2 separate regions of the Homo sapiens genome follow, and region 2 is linked to region 1. Evidence: fine-mapped expression QTL. A gene starts in region 1. The other region holds a variant in brackets. All regions are shown on one strand. Distances are between the middles of the regions. Region 1 holds the start of LRFN5 (leucine rich repeat and fibronectin type III domain containing 5). Region 2 has its middle 62 kb from the start of LRFN5-DT.

The links. PIP is the estimated chance that this variant, and not a neighbour inherited with it, causes the effect. A credible set is the group of variants that fine-mapping cannot tell apart.
Region 2: its variant is the best candidate, but not a certain one, in a credible set for the expression of LRFN5 in spleen (GTEx, PIP 0.70).

What each region holds. Positions count from the first base shown.
Region 1 is chr14:41,605,020-41,609,412 of GRCh38, reverse strand. LRFN5 (leucine rich repeat and fibronectin type III domain containing 5) reads right to left here and starts at 2,537. Exons shown (of 6, transcript NM_152447.5): 1 at 851-2,537.
Region 2 is chr14:41,529,398-41,533,790 of GRCh38, reverse strand. No RefSeq gene overlaps it. Among named protein-coding and RNA genes, the nearest start is that of LRFN5-DT, 62 kb to the left of the region's middle. The variant T/C (reference allele first, on the strand shown) is at 1,828.

The DNA of each region.
Region 1 (4,393 bases):
AACCTGCTCCTTGTAAATCAAGGCACCGGAAAAAAAAAATTCAAAATATCTATTATACAGGGATAAAACAAACAAACAAACAACAACAACAAAAAAACGCGCAAAGGAGTTGCGTGTCCGTGACGGGGACAATACAGCTGGAGAGAATGTTGGGTGGTGGCTATCGTTTTAGCCTGGTTCTGCTAGATATAAAAATGACTTCTTTCATGGATTTATTCTGCTACATAAAAGCACGTCCTGGCAGTTAAACACCATATCTCAAGACACACAGCCGTGACAATATGTATTCCCTTTCATGCAAACCAAGTTCCAAGAAAACTCCATTTCGAGTCAAAGTCTCCAGATGCGTAATTTACAACTACTAAAAAGATCTGGCAAGCTCCTCCACAACAAGGAAAGGAAAACAACCTGGCACCAGAGGTAGAAAAGGGTAGAAAAGATCTTTGGTTTAAATGATGGGTGGAAACCAAACACCCACTCACACTTCACAATCTGGAAAGGGTTGGGTACCAAATGGTCCGTGGCAACCACAGCCTGAAGGAAACACAGAATTTTGATCTCTGGCATCTTCAGACAGGTTCCACACGCCTAGCTCTCAAAAAATATCCTCAGGGTGGAGCACATCCATATTCTCAAAGCTTTCACTACTAGATTAAGTGCTTAGGTATAGATTTATATTTCACCTACTAGAAATCGTATTACAAAATCACAGAGCAGGCGCCCTTGGATACCCAACCCTTCCCAATGATTTTCAAAACATTAATAAGTAAAGTAGCCTGCAATGCAGATAAGACACTAGAAACAAGATCAAAAGGAAATTGGGTGAGGCGAGTAATCGTTGGTTTGTTACCTGGTGCCTCTAAGGGAAAAGACGGTCGTAGGAAGACTTTCTGCCTGCAGGTACAATCCCGGCAAGGTGGCTCCAGGTGGCTTTCACAGTCGTACGCGGGTCTCGCTCGTCACTTCGCTGCCCTTTGCCATAGCTCAGCACCCGCATCGTAGGGAATCGGAAAGGCGGCTCCTGCCACTGCCGCCGCTGCCCGCAGGTCGCTCTGGGTGGGGGAATCGCTGCAATCGCCCCATGAAACCCGCGGCTCCGCGCCCGGGGAGCGGGCAGAGGCAGGGCGGCCGCGCACGCACACACAGACACACGCTCACACTCACACACACTCGCACCCGGGCGCGCGCGCACTTGCACTCACACTCGCACACGCACACCCAGCACTGCACGGGGAGGAAGCAGCACGGAGGGAACCGGTCCTTCTCACGATTGGCTTCGAAGCCCACCGGACCGCGGGCAGCAAAGAGAGCGTTCTCGCATAGCCCTTTAATCACGTTTCCTTCAAGTTCTCCTCCAACCCGAATCCACGTAATTCAAGAGCTGGTGACATTTTGGTGGGGAGGAGGGAGCCGAGAAAGGGCTGAGGAAGAGTCGGGGATTTTGTTAAGCAGTTTAATAAGCAATCCTCATTACCTTATTTGTTTTGTTTTGTTTTGTATAGCAAACCAGTTCGAAGGGCTGAACTTTTGGCTTCAAATGCTGTGAACCAAAACGTAAATATCCTTCTGGCCAAGAGAAGAAGGTGTAGATACACGGAAACAAGAGGGCTGCAAGACACTCTCTTGACCTTGTGATGTACCTGGAAGCAGGTTAATATTGGCGCTTTCCAAGCTTCTGGGTAAAGCGATCCACACACCTGGGTCCACAGCCCAGCAGCCGCTCCAAATCCAGCCAGGAAAATGGGTCTGGGCGTCCTCAGAGCTCTGCAAGAACCCGGGCATGAAGGGGCATCGCCGAGTTAACACATTTGCTTCTGGGCAGTTGGATAAAAGACAGTCAAATGCATCAGATAGGCGCGCGCGTACACACGCGCGCGCACACACACACGCAGCTAGCTGGAAAGCGGCTTACAAAACACTAGAGACATGCCAAGATGACTTGAAAAGGTAGCCAACATCCAGGATCTTTCCGGAACACAGAAGGGCCAGCAGGGAGGTTATCAAAGTCTTCTCAAGTCTTTCAATTCTTCCTCTCTCCTCTGAGTGTGTGTGTGTCTGTCTAGGTTTCGTTGGTCTGCCCCACCCCCGTCCAGTTGCGCTTTTTTTTTCTGATATAACGGACCGTGCAAAATGGATTATATGGGTGGGCTGTGTTCACAGCCAGAGCTCCCCAAAGTCAAGGATCCTAAGGGAGCAGCCAGCTGCTAAACAATTCACATCCTCAAGGGAAGAAGGAAAAACACGCTCAAACACACGCAAACACGCGCACACACATACATAGTCCTCCGTTCGGGCAGCTCTGCACACGCTCACCGCCTCCCTGCGCGCCGCGGAACACAGCGCCCCGCCCGCTGGCCACCGCGCTGGGGCGAGTCCGCAGTTCAGGCGCGAGGCAAGCAGCCGAGGTCCGGGGCTGCGGCCGCGGCCGGGGCGGACCCGGGAGCTGGGCTTCCCAAAGCGTCGCGTGTGGGCAACGGCGGCCTCCTGGCCGCGTGGAACTGAGCCCTGCGCTGCAGCATGAAGGCGGCGGCGGCGGCGGCGGCGGGCGCGCGGCCGTGAGCTCAGCCCGCGCTGCAGTGACGGGAGCGGCCGTGTCGGCCAGACCCCGAGAGTCCGTGAGACCCCGGCCGGGGCCGCTCCGCTGCTGTCAGCCCTCGGGCCTCCCAGCCAGACTGGTTCTGAACCGATTTATCAGGGGGTTGCGGAGAGGGCCGGCGAAGCGCCAGGAAATCCCCAGGCTGAGGAGGCGCGGGGGCGTTGCAGGAAGGGGGAAGGGAAAAGGCAGAAAACCTGGAGAATGAAAGCGAACTTCCAGGGGCGTCCCCAGCCTCCTGCAAAAGGGCAATTTGCTGATCGCCCACTTCCTCGCAGTTACGGGATAGAGAGAATCATCACTGAGTCAAGCTTCGGCTGCTTAGGGCGGTGGGAAAAGTCATTATCTATAATAACCCGCCGGAAATTTTGAGGAGAGCTACTGACTTGGGGGTTTCAGTCATCTGAGGCTGGCTTCCGCTGTCCCCTTAGTTGTGGGTGGTGATTTGCTTACTAATCAGATGGGAGCGGATTCTGAAAAGAACATTTATATTTGGGAATCAACTCAGCTCAGCATCAGACATTACGAATACTGCAGTTGGTCACATTTTACTATGTGAAGGGCAGAAAGGGAGCCCAACAGTCTTCATAAGCCAGACCTAGTCTCTAAGGTCACCGGCACAGACGCAGGGTCTAAAGCAGGAAAGAGGTGCGACTGGAAAGGAGGTTAGACAGGGCCCTGCGGGAATGGATCTGCCCGGAGCCCTCGCCTGGTTTTGCTTGAGACTCCGACAAGACTCCCAATGCTTCTCTCCCCGACCCTATCCCCACTCCCTCCATCCTGGAAAAGCCAGTGAGCAAAGTTAACTCTTTCTTCTAAGAAACCCTGAGTGAAATCTTGCTCTTCCTTTCTGCTAGAGTCCTGAAACCCTTTCGCTTCTCATTGTGGGTTCACCAGCACGTGGTCTTCGGACACTGAGAGCACCTTCGCTCTCAGCTGTGATCCTAGCTAGCCCAGACACCAGTCTGTACCCAAAGGAAGAGTAGGAAGTTGCAAAGGGAAGCTGGCTAACAAGGGCTTCTTCTGCCCTACTTGGCAAAGGCCCATACGGGTGGCCTCCGTGGATATGGAGCTCCTTCATTTTGTTCCAAAAAGAGCTCTGCCAGGCTTTACCATTGCCCTGGAGGTGCACAGGCGCCCGTATACTCGAGCACAACCATGGGCTCACCCCAAGCGCGCACACCTGCACCCACGCGTAAGGAAGAACCACACAGCTATCTCTGTCGGGGAAGAACACGAGGAGTGAAGTGCTTTAGGTGGAAACTCCTCACATCTCCTTTCTTTCCTCTGCTCCCCCTCTCTGCCCCTGGTACTCCGGATCCAATCCTTGGCTTAGGAATCCACTCAAGCCACGTCTGGCTGCTTTGTTCCAGAGGAGCGCAGCTCCGAGACTGCACTTCAGCGGTGCAGCCTCCCTCCAGGTCGGCGAGCGGCGCCAGATCCGGGACTTCAGGGTCTCCGCGGGAGCTTAGGAGGCTCAGGATCTGAGTTGGAGAGCTGGAAGGCCAAACTCCGAGCCGCTGAGGGACTGCGCAGGAAGACCACAGAAATAAACCAAAGGGACACCGCGGACAGATGTACCAGAGGACACCACTGAAGTCCAGGAGAATCTCCACCAAAACCATCAGCGTTTTCCTTGTAGCTTTCTGTCCCTCGAAGTGGAAAGTTGAGGTTTCTGAGAAGTCCACGGAGAGAACCTGCAGCAAACTGAAGCCACAGACTCCGAAGGCATAGGGAGAAAAAATGCTTCCATCCCCCTTTCACTTTAAACTTGATCGCTTCTGGGACTTCACTGGAGGG
Region 2 (4,393 bases), 76 kb after region 1:
TATGTAAACAGGCAAAAGAAGAATCAGTAAACTTGAAGATAGAACAATAAAAATTGCCAGTCTAAGGAACAAAAACAAACATAAAAACATTGAGGAAAAGTGAACATAGCAAAAGGTGTTTGTGGGACAACATCTTGCAGACCAACATTTGCATTATGGGAGTTCCAAGAGGGGAAGAGAAAGAGAAAAGGGCAGAGAAAGTATTTGAATAAATAATGACCCCAACTCCCCAAACTCAATGAAAGACATGAATATAAACATCCAAATATGACAATGAACTTCAAGAAGAATAATTAGAAAAAGATCCACACTAGAGAAATTACACTCAAACTGTCAAACCCCACAGAGTTAATTTTGAAAGGAGCAAGAGATAAGTGAATCATTACATATACCAGAACCTCACTAAAATTATCTGCAAAATTCTCTTCAGAAATTTTGGAGACCACAAGGCAGTGGGATGATTTATTTTGGATATTAAAAGAAAAAAATGTCAACTAAGAATCCAATATCTGGCAATATTGTTCTTCAAAAGTGAGAAAAAAATTAAGACATGACCAGATAAACAAAAGCTGAGATATCTCCTTATTATTACACATATTCTGCAAAAAATGCTAATGATAGTCATGCAGGTTGAGATGAAAGAACACTTTAGCATAACTAGAAGCAATCAGGAGAAGTAAAGATCTTAGCCAAATAAATATATGAATAATTATAAAAGCTAGTATTATTGTAACAAGGGTGTGTAACTCCAGTTTTTGTTTTCTGCATGATTTAAGCAATTAATACATTTTTCAAAACCCAGACACTTATTAGTTTCAAAGATAGTATTATTGTAACTTTAGGTGGTAGCTTTACATTTGTATTTTACATAACTTAGAAGTTTAATACATTTTAAAATTATTAGCTTATGTTTTTGGACACAATTTATAAAGGTATAATTTTGTGACATCAACAATTGACATGGGCTGAAACAGAGTTATCAAAGGAATAGAGTTTTGGTATGTTATCAAAGTTAGGCTTGTAATTATTCAAATTAGAGCATTATACCTTTCAGCTGTTAAATACCCATGAAAACCACAAAGAAAATATCTTAAAAATAGGTACAAAATGAAATAAGAAAGGAATTTAAATGCTTAACTACAAAAAAAAATCAGATAAGCACACAAATAAATAAAACGATAATGCAGGAAATGAGGAAAATAACAGCATATGGAAAACAAATACCAAAAGGACATAAGTAAGTTATTAACAATTACTTAAAATGTAAATGGCTTAAACATTTCAATCAAAAGCCTGAGATTAATAGAGGGTGTAAAAACACGTGGCCCAACTATATGCTGTCTATAAGAGAGTCACTTTAGATTCAAAGACACATGTAGGTTGAAAGTATAAGGATGGAAAAGGATATTCCATAGAAAAAATAGTAAGCAAATGAGAGGAGGAGCACCTATATTAATATTAGACAAAATAAACTTTAAATAAATAAATTTTACACAAAAGACAACTAAAGACATCTATATTAATAAAAGTTTTAATGCAGCAAGAAGACATAACAATTACAGACAATTACATTTATAGTAATAGATCATAGAAATATAAAGTAAACATTGATGAAATTGAAGATAGAAATAAAAGTTCTACAATAATAGTTGGAGACTTCAATACTCCACTCTCAATAATAGAACAGCCAGACAGAAGATAAGTAAGAAAATAGAGTACTTGTACAACACAACAGATTTAACAGATCTATAAGAACACTCTATCCAATAAAAATAGAATATACATTTTTCCCAAGTGTACAGCTGACATTTCCCAGGATAGATCATA[T/C]GTTATTCCACAAATCACATCTCAGTATATTTAAAATAATACATATCTTGCATAGTATCTTCTCCAAACAAACTGGGATGGGTTTAGAAATCAACAGTAGGAAAAAACTGAAAGATTCATAATTTTTAAAACATTAAATAATATACTCTTAAACAAGTGAATCAAAGAAGAAATCATGAGGTAACTATGAAATACTTAGAAACAAAAGAAAATGAAAACATAACATGCCAAAGCATAACATACAAAAATTGTGGGACACAGCAAAAATAGTGTTAAATCAATATTTATAACTTTAAGTGCTTACATTAAAAAGCAAAAATGATCTCAAATGAACAATCTAACTTTAAATGTAAGACACTAGAAAATAAATGAAACTAAACCCAAAGCTATCAGAAGGAAAATAATAGTAGGTATCAGAACAGAGATTTTTAAAAAAATATAGAATATAAAATAATAGAGAAAACCAATGACACTGAAAGTTGGTGCTTTGTGAAAACCAACAAAATTGATGTCTTAATAGACATATAATTGGTATGATGATTAAATCAGCAATCAAAAATTTATTGGCAATGAAAAGCCCTGGACCTGTTTGTTTCACCAGTGAGTTCTACAAAATAAAGAATGAATACCAATGCTCCTCAAACTTTCCTAATAATTTTGTAAGGAAATAACGTACTCCAACTCATTCTATTAGTCTAGCATTACCCTGACACCAAAGACAGACACACACAGTTAAAGAGAAGAAAGCTATAGAACAATTTATGTTATAAATACTGATGTAAGGATCTTCATCAAAATACTCAAAAACCAAATTCAGCAACATATTAAAAGAATTATAAACCATGACCAAGTGGAATTTGTTCCTGGAATTCAAGTATAGTTCAACACATAAAAGTCATCAATATAATATATGACTTAACAGAATGAAGGAAAAAAGAACATATGATCATCTTGATAGATGCAGAAAAACAATTTCTCGGAATTCAACCCACTTTCAAAAAAAAAAAAAACTCAACAATCTAGGAATAGAAAGTAATTACCTTTACATAGTGAAATATATATATATTAAAAAAACAGTGAACCTCATCCTTAATGGTGAAAGATTGAAAGCTTTTCTTTTAGACTAAAGAACAAGGCTAGGATGCTTACTTTCTCCATTTCTATTCAACTTAGTACTAGAAATTGGAGTCAGATAAAATAAGGCAGAAAAAATCCAAATTGTAAGGCAAAACAAAATTATTTATTTTCATAGATAACAAGTTACATATGTAGAAAAAAATCTAGATTCCCCTCAAATCAGAACTAATAAAGGATTTTAACAAAGTAGCAGGATAGAGTTGACACAGAAACATCTGTTATGTTTCCATATACTAACAATAAATAATCTGAAAAGAAAATTTAGAAAATGATTCCATTTACAATTGCATCAAGAAGAATAAAATACTTAGAAATTAATTTGACCAAGGAAGTAAAATACTGTATAATTAAAACTTCAAAATATTGCTGAAAATATTAAAGAAGGCATAAACAAATTAAAAGATATCCATGTTCATGGATTGGAAGCCTCAGTATTGTTAAGATGTCAGTATTATCAAAAGCTATCTACAGATTTAATGCAGTCCCAATCAAAAATCACAATGACATGTTTTTTAGAATTAGACAAGCCCATACTAAAATATATATGGAATCTCAAGGGATCCCAAATAGCTAAAACAATCCTGAAAAGGAATAACAAAGCTAGAGGATTCACACTACCAAGCTGATTTCAAAACTCACTATAAAGCAATAGTAATGAAAACAGTGTGGTACTAGCATAAAAAGAGACATACAGACCTATGAAATAGAGTCTAGAAATAAACCTTAAAATATATGTCTAAATGATTTTCCACAAGGGTGCCAAGACCATTTGAAGAGGAAGAGTCAATCTTTACAAAAAATGCTGCTGGGAAAACATATAGTATGTTCGCATAAAAAAGAATAAAGTTGGACCTTACGTAACACCATATATAAAAATGAACTCAATGATCTATGATCTAAATGTAAAACCTGTAACTAAAAATCTCTTAGAATAAAATATAGGACAGAAAATTCAAAACATTTAGTCTTGCAATTATTTTTTGAATATGACACCAAAGGCACAGAAAACAAAATAAAAAGTAGATAAATTGACCTAAGGAATTTTTTTTTAAAATATGCATCAAAACACACTGCCAACACAGTGAAAAGGCAACCCACAGAATGGGAGAAAATGCTTGGAAATTATATATCTGACAGCGTATTATTATACAGAATATACAGAGAACTCTTGAAACTAAACAACAACAAAAAGCAACCCAATTAATATTGTTCAACAAATTGTGCAATGTTCAAAGTCACTAAAAATTAGGGAACTACATATCAAAACTACAATTAGATACCACATCACACTCATTAGAATGGTTACTATAAAAAATGGAAAATATATTGGCAAGCATGTGGGGAAATTAGAACACTTGGACATTGTTGGTGAGAATGTAAAGTGATACAGATGTTTGTGGAAAATAGTATGGTGTTTCCTGAAAACAAT